4 linked regions of the Homo sapiens genome follow. The protein of the gene in region 2 purifies or fractionates together with the protein of the main gene of each other region. This does not show direct contact. Each region holds a gene or a part of one and is shown on either strand. Other genes may lie near its edges.

Region 1 (3,841 bases), on a different chromosome or scaffold from region 2:
TTCACAAATGTGGTCACAATTTGCCAACATTATCTCTTATCATTTATCCCAATAATGCCATATTCTTACACATAAGCATCTTACCACCCCATGAACATAATGGCCCTCTCTGGATTCTATGTCTTTGTACATTTTCTTCCTCTTGCCCTCATTTAATTTTCAAGACAGCTTAAGGTATCATCCATTCAGTGAAGGCCACCCTGATTCTCCCAGTTTTTGCCTCTGTCCTCTGTTCTTCCACAGCACTACTTTGTGTCAATCACCCCAGTAAAACTATAAGTAACTTAAGAGAAGGGCCCATGTATTTCCAAGTCCAAGCACAGTGACCATCACAAAATATATGGCCACTTCAATGCTATCCACATTGACACCCTGGGTTACCATTCTGTTTCCAACTCTGACGCCCATCATGTCAGTCCCCTACACTGTAACTCTTCATATACTTTTCTCCATTCTTGCACCTGGGCCCTAAAAGCCATGCTTAGAAAAATAAACAACTAGAATTCTAATTCTAGTTGTAAGTACTCAACTCAATTCTAGTAGTAAGTACTCAACAGTTAGATAATTAGATTGTCTTTAATACTCTGCTTCTCGAGTTTGTCAAAAGAAGCTATAGAAATATAGTTCTAATAAAATGTTTACTTGTTTTAGTAATTACTAAACAAGGGAAATAATGCACATTTTACATCTCATTTAGTTTAATCCTCCTTGCAAAATTAATAAATATGGAAAATAAGGCTGTAGGCTCAAAGGAAAAGGCATTGAAATAAATTTATATTTTAAACAATTCTACGGTCTAACACCACAAATAAAAATATACATTGCCAGCAGCATCATCAATAATAAATATTGATTAATGACCTACATATGTACTGGGCATTATACCAGACACTACGAGAAGCAACAATTAGTAAGATATCATCCCTATCAGTGAAGAATTCTCGGTTTAAATCCAGTAAGAATAGTTCCACAGAGATTATTATCTTTTTTGTAAGCCTTACAAAATCTACACTGGCCACACAATAGATACACTCCTTAACAAATATCTAGTGATTAATAATATATATGTCTTTTGAATTATGATACTTCACATCCCTTATACTTTGATAATCATTAATAAACACATAGTTCTAAATTATGGCACATCTATAATGACAGATTACACAAACATTAAAATGAGTGTTTCAGAAGAGTCTCTTGGTGAATTGCAAAAATCTTCAAGATATGATAGCAAAAAAAGACTCAAAATATATATTAAAAGACATATATATGAATTCTAAATTCTAAAACATAAAAATATACATTTTTATAAGTATTTATTTTATATATTTACATGATATAAAAATATATCAAGCCCTGCCCTTACCTTTTTATCTGAAGTGATAAGCTTAAATGCTTCTGTTACTTGATGGACTGTAGCACCACCACCAACATCAAGGAAGTTGGCTGGAGTCCCTCCATGAAGTTTTATTATATCCATTGTGGCCATAGCCAAACCAGCACCATTTACTATATAGGGGAAAATGATTTGTATAAGCAACAAACACAGAGAAAATAAATTAAACTTAGTAAATCCAAATTAAACTTAGTGAATCCAATTCTAACATAAAAACACATGGTACCTAGGCAGCCTATATTTCCATCGAGGCCAATGTAGTTGAGATTTGCCTTAGCAGCATCTTTGTCCCTTTCATCTTCCTGGGTCCAGTCCTGTAGATCAAAGATTTTCTTTTGGCGATAGGCTGAATTAGAGTCAAAATTGATCTTTGCATCCATACACAATACTTTGAAGGGAAAAAGAGAAAAATGACCTTAATTTCAAGACAGATACAATAAAGTATCAAATAGTCAAATGGTCTTTCATTTAGGGAAAAGACACATTTTAATTTTGTTACTTAATGAAAATATTTCAATTTATGTTCACTATGAATTCAAACTGTTCTTTAAAAAAGAATATTTGGGAATTAAAACTGCCCCATCAAAGTTATTGGGTCTACATCCATGCTATGCACTACATAAAGAAAAAGAAAACCTCAAAAATATTTTAAATTATTTAAAAATTGTCAAAAATTAACTATCCTTGTTCGTAGCTAACCCCATCACTTGGGCCCCATATCCCATCCCCTCTCCTCTACTCAAAAATAATGTTCCAGCAATTCTGTCTCCCCTACATTATAAATCTGCCTCCCCCCACCCCTTACCTTTCTATTGGCTAAATCTTGCCGACTTGCTAAAACAGTTTTATTTCCTCACCTTAATAAAAAGAAAAAAAAATCTTTTAACTCCTATCTCCCCCTTACTCTTTACTACATAGCAACTCCTTGAAGATTTGTCTAATTAAAAGAGGGGTCTCAGAACAAGGGTTTCTGGGGAAAAAAAAGAAATAGAGGGGTGAGCAAACTATGGCCAGATTCGGCCTGTGCTTGTTTTTATTTTTTATTTTTTTGAGACAGGGTCTCGTTCTCACACCCAGACTAGAGTGCAGTGGCATGCTCTCAGCTCACTTCAACCTCCACCTCCCAGGCTCAAGCAATTCTCATGCCTCAGCCTTCCGAGTAGCTGGGAATACAGGCATGCACCACAACACCCAGCTAATTTTTGTAGTTTTAGTAGAGATAGGGTTTTGCCATGTTGGCCAGGCTGGTCTCGAATTGCTGACCTCAAGTAATCCACCCGCCTCAGCCTCTCAAAATGCTGAGATTAAAAGTGTGAGCAACTGAGCCCAACTTGTGCCTGTTTTCAAATGGCCTGTAAGCTAAGAATGGATTTTACACTTTTAAAGGATTATGAAGTCAAAAGGGGAAAAGAAAGAGAAGAAGAAGAAGCAAAACAGCAGCATCAAAAACTATATGTGATCCATAAAGCCTAAAATACTTATTAAATGCCAACCCCTGTGCTTAAACTCCTTGTACCAAATTTTTTTCCTGCCATTCTCTCTTATACCCACTCTAATCAGGCTTTTACTCCCAGCACTCTACCAAAATGGCTCTTAACAAAGGTCACCTCTCTGACTTCACCTTTCAGTACCCTACCCCTTCCTCACTCCAATCTAACCACAACATTCTCCTTGCAGCTCCTGAAAAGATACAGGGTTGAAAGAAGCAAGCAATTTCAGCTGCTGCCCAACACAGGAGAAAAAGTTTGGAGCCCAGCTAAGTTAAGTACCCTTAATACCAAAAGTCAATATTCTTTCAGAGGAAGATAACAGAATTCAGTCTTTACACCATAGCTCCCAAAATGCACAGTGTATGAGTCAAACTTACTAGATCCGTAATGAAACGGGGAAATGTAACCACTAGTAAAGAGAAGAAACAGTCAACTGAAACCAAACCCACAGTAACCCAAATTTAGAATAATCAGAAGACTATTATAAACTTTTTAAAACATGTTTAAGGATTTAAGAGAAAATATGGTCATAATAAATGAACACACAGGTAATCTAAGCAGAGAATAAAACAAGGGAACAACATGGAAAATCCAGAACTAAAAAGTATAATATCTGAAATAAAAAATTCACTGGATGAACTTAACAGCAGACTGGTGATGGGTCAGTGAACCTGAAGACAAAGAGAAATTATCCAATCTGCAGGAAGAAAAAAAAAGAAAAAAGAAACTGCACCTCAGTGACCTCTTGGACAATATCAAGAAGTCTAATGTGAAACTGGAAGAAAAGGAGAATGGGACAGGAAAAAAGTGATGAAAGAAAAATATATCAAGCCAAGATTCTATATCCAGTGAAAATATACTTCAAAAGAAGGACAGAATAAAGATATTTGCAGAATAATGGAAACAATATTCATCACTAGCAGACCTGTGCTAAGAGAAATGCTACAGAAAGTTC
Region 2 (4,806 bases):
ACTGCAGCCTCCCAGGCTCAAGAGATCCTCCCACCTCAGCCTCCCCAGTAGCTGGGACCACAGCTGTGCACTACCACGCCTGGCTGATATTTTGGATTTTTTTGGTAGATGGGTTTTGCCATGTTGCCCAGACTGGTCTCAAACTTCTGAGTTCAGGCAGTCTACCAGCCTTGGCCTCCCAAAGTGCTGAGATTACAAGGCATGAATAACCAGCTATTCAGTTGGTTCTTGAAGAGGGAAAGACTTCAGGACTTGGAAGTGAATGTTGGTGGCAGAAATGTAAGAAACTAGTTGGGTGAGTTTTCAGAACTATACGGCACCTTTTTAACTGGAAGCCAGAAATCAAGAGGCCTGAAAGGAAACAAAGGGAATCCAAAGGAATGAAAGTAAGGTTGTCCAAAAAGTTCCATTTTATTTATTTATTTAGAGAAAGGGTCTTGCTATGTTGCCCGGGCTGGAGTGCAGTGGCACAATCATAATGCACTGCAACCTTGAGCTCCTGGGCTCAACTGATCCTTCTGCCTCAGCCTCCCAAGTAGGTAATTTTTAAAATTTTTATTTTAAGTAGAGATGGAATCTTGCTATGTTGCCCAGGCTGAGAAGTCTTTCTAAGACTAAAAAAGGTAAAAAAAGAAAAGTCACAGATCACAGGGGTAAACCATGCAGAATCATAAATGTAACTTTCCTTCTGTTAAGATATTTAATAGAAACTGTCTGTAAACTTTTTCGTTTGTTTAAATATATTTATGTATATATAATATATGTACATATAAAACATATACACAACTTTAAGTCATGTATCATTTGGATTTTAACTGAGAGTCTTTAACATACATTAGAGATTGACAAACTAGCTAATCCAGCTCAGTGCCTGTTTTTGTAAATCCTGTAAGCTAACAATGATTCTTATATTTTTAAAATGGGGATGGGCATGGTGGATTATGCCTGTAATCCCAGCATTTGGGGAGACTGAGGCAAGAGGATCCCTTGAGGCCAGGAATTTGAGGCTGCAGTAGCTATGACTGTACCACTGCACTGCATCCTGGGTGACAAAGACCTTGTCTCTTAAAAAAAAAAAAGGAGGAGGGGGGTTGGAGAAAAATCAAAATAATAATATTCTGTGACTTATGGAAAACTATATGAAATTGAAATTTCAGTGGCCATAAAAAGTTTTATTGTAACATAAACGGGTTTGTTATATGTCCATGGCTACAAAGCACAGCTGAATAAATGTGAGAGATGATATCACCTACAAAGCCTAAATTATTTACTATCTGGCCCTTTAAAGAAAAAGTTTGTGAAACCCTGATATACACACATGCGTTTCTGTCAATAGAGTCGGAATTATTTTACCTAAATGCATATCATGCATATGAAACCAGTTGTCTGAGTATTTAGGGTCTAACTGGTAGACACGTTATCAAAGCAATGCCCAAAGACAACTTCAGGAGTGGTGTTCTGAATCAAATGTAGAAAACAAGCCACTGAGGTAGTTAAGGGAGAGGCAGATTCTTGCCTCAGCTCAAATTTCTCCAGTGGCTCTCTTTTATCTAGTTATAAAGTCATTTGCTTGGCATTCAAGGCGCTTGAAGACCAGAGGCTACAATCAACCAGGCTTTTCCGCTCAGTATCATTAAATTACAGTACTTATTTTCCCGAACACCACGGTCTCCTACGCCTCTGTGCTTCTGCACATGCCATGGCGTCCTTCTATATGCCTGCCCAGCAAACCTTCTCATCCTTCAAGTCTCTGCTCCTGAAATCTTCCTGGATTTCTCCAGTCTCTGGCAGTGCTTCAATGTTGCCACTGCACTCTGTACATACCTTCAATTATCTTGTACAGTGATCAGTTATTTGCATGTCTTTGACCAACAGACTGTAAGTTCCTTGATGGTCAGGCATTGTCTTTTCATCCTTAGATTCCCAGCAGAATTACCAAACACAGAAGTAGACATCAAAGAAGTATTTCTTGAATGAATGAAATTTTAAAAATCATTAAATCTAAAAGTGAATTATGTTTGGTTCCTAAATTCTCTGCTTTGCCCAGCTGTCAAGACCCCCTTACCCCTTTCCCAAGTTGGGACACACTTCTGGCAGCTATGTTCCCAGCTGGACTAGCAGGGGCAGAGGCACTGGTTTATTCTAATTGTCTCTTCGCTGATACAACAAGGTGCTAGTTGGCCAGAGCCCCAAATTATACATTAGCAAATCCTGACTGACAACAGCGTGAAACCAGCAGGACAAGTTTTAAGAAGTTGCAAAGGTTAAGACGTGAAGGACAACGTGGGAGGAGGACCGGGCAGAAAGGGATTCAGGACGAGATCCATCTCACCCTCCGTGGAGGGAAAACCGAATGATTTCTACTGAGTTTCCCTAGTTCCTGTAATCTGCTTTCAAAAACTCAGAACTAAAAAGGAAACAAAAAACTAACACGTAAACCCCTCCTCCTTCCTACGGCTCTGACATTTCCTCTGCGTAGGATTTCGTTGCTCCAAACCCACCAGGCCTAAGCCATGTAATCCGACGCGATCCGTCGGCTTGATGACTCACCACTGGAAAGCGCTCCCTGCAATCCCTCACAGTTCAGACAACTAAGTCCGAGATGGAAGGCAACGTGTGACTCACGGCACACTCCTTGTAACGCCCGGGCGCCGTCCATTCGCAACATCAGTCCCTGCACATTAAATGCGGAAGGGCCCTTCAAGTTCATTCATTCATTCATTCCACAAACTTTCGTGGTGATTTTTGCCCGCTTTGAGTATGGGCGGGAGGAGGGAAGAGGAGCTGACCAGACCCAAAAAGGGGCGACACACGCCGGGGAGGGACGCCACGCAGGCCGCGGGCGGACTCCCGGGCGGCGGGGACGCGCGGGGACCCGGCCGCGGGACGAGGGAGGCCGGCGGCTGGACACTACCTGCGGGAGAGCGAGTGAGGTTCTGGCCCTCCGAGTTGACCGCCTGCAGGTAGAAATAGCGGACCGGCAGGACGACGGCCGCCTGCAGCCCGGGCCCCCACACCAGGCTCCGCGGCGCGCTGACCAGCACCTCCGGGGCCCCCGCGGCCACCAGCAGGGCGAGGCGCAGCTGCAGCAGCAGGGCCCGCGGGAGGCGGCGCATGGTCGGCGGGGCACAACTGCGGTCCAGCTCCGCGGCGGCGAGGAGGGGCCGGCAGCGCCGCGGACCGGGCGGGGACTGGGGCCCACCGCGGGGCGGGTCTTTCGGGCGGGAAAGATTGCGGCGCAGGCTCCCTTTCCCGCCCGCTGTCCCGCCTCGTCTCCCTCGGGCGGGAACGCGAGCCAGTGCCGCAATCACCCACTGCGCGCCCTGTAGGGGTCGACGATGGGTGCGCCCCTTCCTCCCCGCAGCCCCATAGGCCCCGTGGAGGAAAGGGGTGGAGAGGCCCGCCCAGAGACCGAGGCTGCGAGTGTGCGCTGGCTGTTGATTGCCAAGGCTTCAGGCACGCCTGGCCTCCACTTCCAGTGGTCTTTCCCTTTCTTTTTCTTCCTTCCTTTCCTTCTTTCTTCTCTTTTCTTTCTCTGTTTTTATACAGACAAGGGGGCTGGCTCTGTCGCCTAGGCTGGAGTGCAATGGCGCGACCACAGCTCACTGCAGCCTGGAACTCGTGGGCTCAGGAGATCCTCCCGCCTCAGCCTCCCGAGTAGCTGGGACTGACTGTAGGCACACGACACCACGCTGGCTAATTTAATTTATTATTATTATTATTATTATTATTATTATTATTATTATTACTATTACTATTTGTAGAGACGGGGTCTCCCTATGTTGCCCAAGGTGGTCTTGAACTCCTGGTTTCAAGCAATCCGCCCGCCTCGGCTTCCCAAAGTGCCGGGATTACAGGCATGAGCCACCGGGTCCGCCGCTCAGGTGTTTTTAAAGGACGTAGACCCGGTGGTGATTGTTGTGGGACGATGAAAGGGTCCGGCCCCAAGATCGATGTAGTTTAGGGAAATATCTTTTCCCAAGGAATGTCTCCGAGTTTACAAGATGAGCGCCAAGGTCACGCCCCCCGCCCTCCCTCACAGCCCTCTGTTCACAGCAGCACCGTTCTCTTGTGGCCGGTTTTGTTGCTTTTCTGCTTAGCAGCCTCCCTCACAGAACCGTGATCCCCCCACCCCACACATCCCTTTCCCCGCTTCCTCCCGCACTCCTCTTCTTCCAGCAGGTGTTTACAGAACATCCACGGAGTTTGGGCCAAGCCCAGAGTGAGGAGCTGGGCACTGGGGTGGCAGAAGACCAGGCCTTGCCTTGAGCCCTTGTGCGAGCTTTACCTCAAAGCCTCTGTAATCGAAGTGGGAGAAGGGGTGGTGGTGCGTGGTTGGTCTCAGCCACCTCCACCACTCCTCAGAAGATGAACGCTGGATCCAGGAAGAGATTGTCAAGGTTACTATCTGCCTCTCTTTTTTGATCATTTTATCCAATTTGTTAATGGATACAAATTTGTTAATGGATTGTTAATAGATCTGAATTTATTTAAAGCCAATAAAGATTCTCCTCTGGCTGAATGATCCAGAAGGAACTCACACCCCAGAATGGACACAGGATTTCTGCACCCTCTTGGGGGAACTTAATGCCCAAAACATCAGAGCCAGGCACTGGACAAGCCTTTGTCCGCCTCACGGCTTTAACCGTGCTACTCAGCATTCTTGCTGTGACCAAGTTTTACCAGGGCAAAATCTTTCCCACATTTTCACACTTCTCTTGACCTATTTTAGTAATGCTAAGCAGTGGTTATGGACAGTATTCTTTGTACTTTGGAAAGGTTTCAGGAACTGGTAGTCAGTTGCCG
Region 3 (2,763 bases), on a different chromosome or scaffold from region 2:
TACACCGCATTATCTAGGTTTATGTTATTTTACAGAAGAGACTGAGACTCAGTGAGGTTAACTGCTCAGTCACAGAGCTAGTAAATGGTGAGCCAAAATTAAAAACCAAGCTTGTCTCTGACCTTAACCATTATGCTATACTGTCTCTACATATGTATTATAAATCTCAAATCATATTTATTATTTTGCGCAGAAAACCATCATTGGCAAGGGCCCTTGCCTTCATGTTCCTAACAAGCCTCACACCTAGCAATGTCTAGGCAAAGTAAGTCCTTGAATAGCCAGTGCCATCTTCTATCAACCCACTCCAGCACCAGAGACTGTGGCACTCATAGATGATTTATCTTTGCTGTTTGTAATTTTTGTCCAGTATAAAAGATAACCCATGGATTGTAGTTTAATTGCCCCGTAGGACATAAACCAGTTTTGTATCTGTGGAGAGGCCCTCACCACCACCCCCAAATTTGAAGATTTGCTAGGAAGACTCATAAGACTCCACATACAGTTCTGCTCACGGCCATGATTTATTACAGTGAAAGGATACAAAACAAAATCAGCAAAGGAAAAAAGACACATGGGGTGAAGTCAGGGGAAACTAAGTGCAAGCTTCCAAGAATCCTCCGCCAGTGGAATCACAGAGGATGAGCTTAATTCTCCCAGCAACCAGTTGTAACAGCACTTGTGAAACACTGTCAACCAGAAAAGCTTGTTAGAGACTGAGTGCCTGGGGTTTTTACTGGGAGCTGGTCACAAAGGTAGTCTCTGCCTGGCACATACCAAAATTCCAGACTCCCAGAAGGAAAGCAGGTGTTCAGGAGAAACTATATTGTTTTACAGTTTAGATATAGTAAGCTACTTTGATCAGTTCTGGGAATGGTGGAAGCCCCCTGAACTCCAAGTTCCCAGATGCCAATCAAGGGCCAACCTTGTAAAGCAGGTCTCTAAGGTTAAGTAGTCAGGTCGGCTTCATTAACACTTTTTTCTGCACAGCAATTTTATCTCAACATTTTTTCTTCAATGCCCATAAATACTCAGTTTCTTGAATTGTACTTTGAACCAGGTTTACTATCTGCTGGTTTCCTCATTAATGAGTCGAATAAGTCTTCGACACATGCTCATCTTATACACATGTATATATATGAGTCATGTTGTCAACTTAAAAGGTTTGACAGATAATAACCTAATCAAGCTAAATAAAGTCCAGCCAAAATTAATTAATAAAAAACATTAACTAAATAATATCAAGGCTCAATCTACACCTCACTTTAGTTATTTAGGAAAGAAAAAAAATAACCTTTATACTAGCATTTCACACTTTCTTACTGACTTTAGAACGTCTTCTGATTTAGGTGGCAATCACTTGCCTAGTTGTACTTAGGGCAATATTAATAAAATAATGAATGTTTCTGCAAGAAATAATATATAAAGATTAATTTCCTCTTTAATTTTACCAATCAGAATATTAAAAATACTACATCATTGTTTTAGATGAAATTCCCCATTTAAATATATTATACATAAGCCAAATTTTAGAAATAGCTCCTTGTATCACTGTACAATTTTGGGCCTTTAAAAAAAAAGCTCAATTTTAAGTTTGAATATAATGTGCAGTTTATATAACATATATATTATATTATATATACTTTATACATTATATAAAGTATTATCCTTATTGTGAACTTTATTATGCTTCTGAAATTTCTCCATCATTTCAAATTTACTTCAATAAAAATTTCCCTATATTTTGTGAATTGCATTTTCAAATCAGAAGTAATGTTACAAATTTCTGTCTATAATAAAAAACAAAATATTCACGCTTTATTAATAATCCTAATTAGAAAAGGATGCAATTAAGAGCTGGCATAGCTAACATAAGCATAAGAAAGGTAAACTTTTCTTGAATTAAAAAAAGGAAATACTTTAATGAAAAAAAATCAAGGACAGAAGGAAGGAGAAAATTTTCTAAACAGCAGCTGGTCCTTCTTCACAATTTGCATTACTTATGCAAATACATCATTAAATAATACTCATCTTATATTTACAAAATAGAGGAAAGGGAAAAACCTAAAGTATCAGGATCTTTCATTTCTTATCCCTCTTCCAATCTTCTGGATACATTAGTTTACATACCAACTAAACATGTGATACTAGTTAACTATAGTTGAGAGCTTATCAATTAAGTCATCAATAGTGTAAACAAGAAGTTGAATGTCTGCTTTTTCCCTCATTCGGTGATCACTGTGTTTTCGGAGGATGACATCCACATCTGTGCTGAGTACTCGATCGGCAACCTGCATTGATGTATGCCAAGGTACAATGTCATCCTTCATGCCATGGAGCAATCTTATGGGGCAGTTCACAGGAATTGGGCTATGTAACAAGCAGTGATGTTCAGCTTCTTTAATGAAACTGTACTGAACGTTATAAACTCCTTCTTCAGAGTATTTTGATGGCATGCTCCACACACCTTTCATCTCTACTTCCTTTTTTAGCTATTGGAAAAAGAAAGAAAAATAAAAGTATTTGTGACTTTAGGCAACATTAACACATGCAATAGTTTTAAGTAATCTAATGAAAGCAGTTCTTGAATAAGAGGATAGAGATAACAAAAGTATAACAATAATAATTATCAATAATTACTACATGCAAGGTACTGTGATGGGTATTTTATACATATTATTCCATAAGATTCTGATAATAATTCTGTTATTATTCTATTTTTATAAAAGAGGATATTATGGTTTAGATAAATGAAATACTGTG
Region 4 (3,720 bases), on a different chromosome or scaffold from region 2:
TTTTTTGTTTTTGCATAATACTTTGAAGTCTGCTATCACAAGTTGTGAACCTCTATCTCTTGCAGTTTAGGTAAGGCAACACATTTAATGAATTCACATTTAAGTGAATTCCTCACAGGGATGACGACCTCTGTTGAAATAGGTCAGGATGTGCAGTTTGTGGTGAAAGTTCTACTTGACTTTGACCTAGCTGTTTGAAGCTGAGAGCTAACAGATAATAAGTGTTGCACTGGTTGCAAATGAATAAATAAGTAACATTATGGGGTTTTAAATGACCAAGGAGTAGATTGTGACATCGACTGGGTATTTAGGGAAGGACTCCTTCCTGATACCAAAAGTTAGGTCTGTGCAAAGTACACCAAGTGGAAAAAAGTTTAGACAAGAGTTTAGGTTTCAAGATAAATGTTCTGCTCTATTGGCACTGGTTTTAAGTCTTTTGTGCTACTTTTTAGGCATTGCTGTGTAAGTTTTGGTGGTGCGTGGGTACAATGAAGCCAGGAGGGATAGAAAGGGAAATGATGTGTGTGCTGCAGGCTAAACAGGGGCTCTTCCTTATGCCTCATAACCACCTGTGTGTGACAGTTTCACATTTCCTATCAAATTATTATCTTCATTCATTTCTACTTGTGAATGAAGTTCGGAGACTAAGAAAAAGCCAGCTGTTGGAATAGAAAGCACTTTAGGATAAAATGGTCTTGTTAAAATCACCAATTAAAAAGTTAAGCCCCTGATGTACAAATAACTAAAACACATACATACAAAGACAGTGCTTCTTGTTCAATGATTTACTTCACAGCTGATTCATAATCAAATGAACAAGAATCTGCAAGAACAGAACATGGTGGGCAGGGTCCAGTAATTCCAAATGTTGTCATCCTAGCTCTTCCTGAAGCATATTGAATCCTCCAAGTATATCCCGTTGTGCTAACTAGGCTTTAAGTCTTTTGTCTGTAGATTCATTCTCAAAGTTTCTCCCTCAGAACAAAGAGCACGCCATCCTGTAAAGTACTCTTCCTGATTTTTTTTCACCCAATTTCTTAGTTTCTTTCAATTGCTTTTCAGACCCCGGCAGGCAGATTCTGCCCTCATCTGTCCAGTGACACTCTTCTGGCAGATTACTAAAGACCGATTTGTAGACCTGTCCATGTGGCCTCTCTCAACACCATTGGTGTGACCTTGCTCATACTGCCTCTCTCACCACTTAACATTGTCCCTTAGATGTTAAAGGCCCTTATATTAATAGTTTTATTTTAGCTCCTTTACATTTTATTTTGTCCTGAGGAATCTCAGCTACATGCATGGTCTTCAATATATGCCGATAATTCTCATTCACATAGCTCTCCTGTTGGCTTTTCCCCACTCGTTTAAAAACAACCACTTCACTTTGCTGGACTCTACCTTGAATGCCTCATTTTCAGCTCACACTCATGCTGTGCCTTTATTTAGATTTGTTGTGGTTGTTTCCCCACATTCTGGAAGCTCCTTACCTAAATCCTGTTTATTCCTTAATGCTTAGCACAATTTATTACTCTTGTTTCCATGGCACTACATTGTACTTCTGTTTTAGAGACTACCTTCCTCTGAAGCATATGACAGGTTCATTTACTATCCAGCCCACCAAAACTCAGTTTTTGAGCTCCTCTATGTTCATCTTTTTATGGCTAACCCTCACCATCATGAGTGCTTAGTAAATGTTGAGTTGGAATGAATTTATTCCTACAGGTTGCACTTGCTCTCTCACCAAGTGTTCTGGCCAAATAATTCTGGAATGATTTCCTTACCTTAAGGGAGTCTGATCTGGGAAGAGCCTGGGACGTGATGTAACTTCATATGCTGTAGAGCTGAATATTCATTTACTTAAGATCTTAGCTCCATTAGAAAGCAGTGAAAGCAGTGTTAATTCAGAGGCCGGGTATGGTGGCTCACGCCTGTAATCCCAGCACTTTGGGAGGCCAAGATGGGCAGATCACTTAAGGTCAGGAGTTCAAGACCAGCCTGGCCAACATGGCAAAACCCCATCTCTACTAAAAATACAAAAATTAGCCGGGTGTGGTGGCACATGCCTGTGATCCCAGCTACTCGGGAGGGTAAGGCAGGAGGAGGTTACAGTGAGCCAAGATCACACCACTGTACTCCTGGGCAACAGAGTTAAACTGTATCAAAAAAAAAATGCAGTATTGATTTAGAGCTAAGGTCACCTGATGCTCAGGCCAGTAATTTCTCCCTGCATCATGCTGTTGTCTAAGGCAGACACTGTAAAGCTCTACACTGCTGAAAAACTAAGCTTGAGATGCATAAAAGAACACATAGAGATGGGGAGTCAGTTCTCCATACATTTTGTGAGTAGAGGCATTGGTGTTTTGTTCCAAACTATCCAATCGAGAATGTTCATATAATGACAGCTTTGGAAGGTAGAGACTATCTTCCTCTGGATCATAGGACAGGTTTGTTTACTATCTGATACAGTCAAAATAGTGTTTCCCTCTAATGCGAAAGTCAGGCCAGTTTGCTTGTGACCTCATTAGATTTGGGCTGTGACGCAAACCCACTGCATGTGCAGTATCCACCTAGCTTGCCCTGTGTCACTCCCATGGGATCTGTGGCTCAAACTCATGTTGCTTGCTATGTTCTAAATAATTAAGTCTGTTGTCTGACCCAGGAGTCTCATGTCTTCTGCCAGCATTCAGAAAACTAGTTTTCAAGAAGGGTAACATCTTAGACCTTTTACAGCTCTTGACACAGAGCAATATTGAGAAATAAAATCAGGTAAAAGTTATTTAATATAGCAGTTCATAATTTAGGCCATGGATCATCTCTGCAGAGAATCCTACCATGCTGCATTCTTGCTTTAAACCTTTCGCCCTCTAAAACAATGCCCAAGAGCCAATGTTAGTCATGGTCTTCCTGTATTTGCTCTAGGTAAGCTGTTTCATAGCCTTCCAGGACAACACTTGCACAGGTTATCTTTAAGCACCAACAAAAGAAATGGAGAAATTTGAGCCATGTATCCTGAGCTCTGAAAGGCAGCAATCATCTTGACCCCAAGCATACACCATGTTCAGCTTCCTCCCCTTGGCCAGGTACCACAGCTACTTCTATCCCAGTGATCAGCAGGCCCTCCAGCATGAAGACCTTTGAGAAGGATCTATAGCTGTCAACTCCTAATATGATTTGTGCACTATCACCTTGAAGTAAACCAGACTAGTTATTTTCATGCTAAGAGTCTGAAAACAGTGCCTTCTTTCTGATGTCTCTTGTAGAATATTGGCAGAGGGATCTCAATTTTTACTTTATACCTGAAGGGCAGCTTTTTGGTCTGATAGTTATAGTGCAATCATTCATATTTTAAATCACAAATACCCCCACTTGTTGATGAAAACTCCAGTCTGTGGCATGGGTGTACATTCACTGCCTAAACCATCTTTGGCCAAAATTTGTGTGTATATGAAGTCATTCTACTTTAGCATACTCAAAGGCATTCCTTTAAACCATTTATCTGCTTGTACACAATAGCCAAAGGAATATTTGTTACTATGGCTGATGTAATAAACTATCATCACAAATTTAGTGGCTGAAAAAAAACAAAGTTATTCTCTTTTACTTCTGGAGTCCAAATTCATGGGGCCAAAATGAAGGTGTTGGCACTCTGCTCTAGGGCAGGATCCGTTTCTTGCCTTTTCCAGTTTCTGGTAGTTGCCAACATTCTTTGGCTTGTGGCCA

The links. Proteins that work in one complex are often made in the same cells at the same time.
Region 1: the proteins of POGLUT3 (region 2) and SUCLA2 fractionate together in Homo sapiens (co-fractionation; one large-scale study listed by BioGRID). This does not show direct contact.
Region 3: the proteins of POGLUT3 (region 2) and ABHD10 fractionate together in Homo sapiens (co-fractionation; one large-scale study listed by BioGRID). This does not show direct contact.
Region 4: the proteins of POGLUT3 (region 2) and NIT2 fractionate together in Homo sapiens (co-fractionation; one large-scale study listed by BioGRID). This does not show direct contact.

The regions. Positions count from the first base shown.
Region 1 is NC_000013.11:47,952,774-47,956,614, forward strand, and holds part of SUCLA2 (succinate--CoA ligase [ADP-forming] subunit beta, mitochondrial precursor), read right to left. Parts: intron 1,785-3,841; coding exon 1,623-1,784; intron 1,510-1,622; coding exon 1,367-1,509; intron 1-1,366. UniProt on the Homo sapiens protein: ATP-specific succinyl-CoA synthetase functions in the citric acid cycle (TCA), coupling the hydrolysis of succinyl-CoA to the synthesis of ATP and thus represents the only step of substrate-level phosphorylation in the TCA.
Region 2 is NC_000011.10:108,495,251-108,500,056, forward strand, and holds the start of POGLUT3 (protein O-glucosyltransferase 3 isoform 1 precursor), read right to left. Parts: upstream 3,135-4,806; 5' UTR 3,117-3,134; coding exon 2,915-3,116; exon of another isoform or gene 2,711-2,914; coding exon of another isoform or gene 2,551-2,710; intron 1,969-2,550; exon of another isoform or gene 1-1,968. UniProt on the Homo sapiens protein: Protein glucosyltransferase that catalyzes the transfer of glucose from UDP-glucose to a serine residue within the consensus sequence peptide C-X-N-T-X-G-S-F-X-C. Can also catalyze the transfer of xylose from UDP-xylose but less efficiently.
Region 3 is NC_000003.12:111,991,106-111,993,868, reverse strand, and holds the end of ABHD10 (palmitoyl-protein thioesterase ABHD10, mitochondrial isoform 1 precursor), read right to left. Parts: intron 2,493-2,763; coding exon 2,148-2,492; 3' UTR 501-2,147; downstream 1-500. UniProt on the Homo sapiens protein: Acts as an acyl-protein thioesterase that hydrolyzes fatty acids from acylated residues in proteins.
Region 4 is NC_000003.12:100,358,416-100,362,135, forward strand, and holds the end of NIT2 (omega-amidase NIT2), read left to right. Parts: 3' UTR 1-3,220; downstream 3,221-3,720. UniProt on the Homo sapiens protein: Has omega-amidase activity. The role of omega-amidase is to remove potentially toxic intermediates by converting 2-oxoglutaramate and 2-oxosuccinamate to biologically useful 2-oxoglutarate and oxaloacetate, respectively.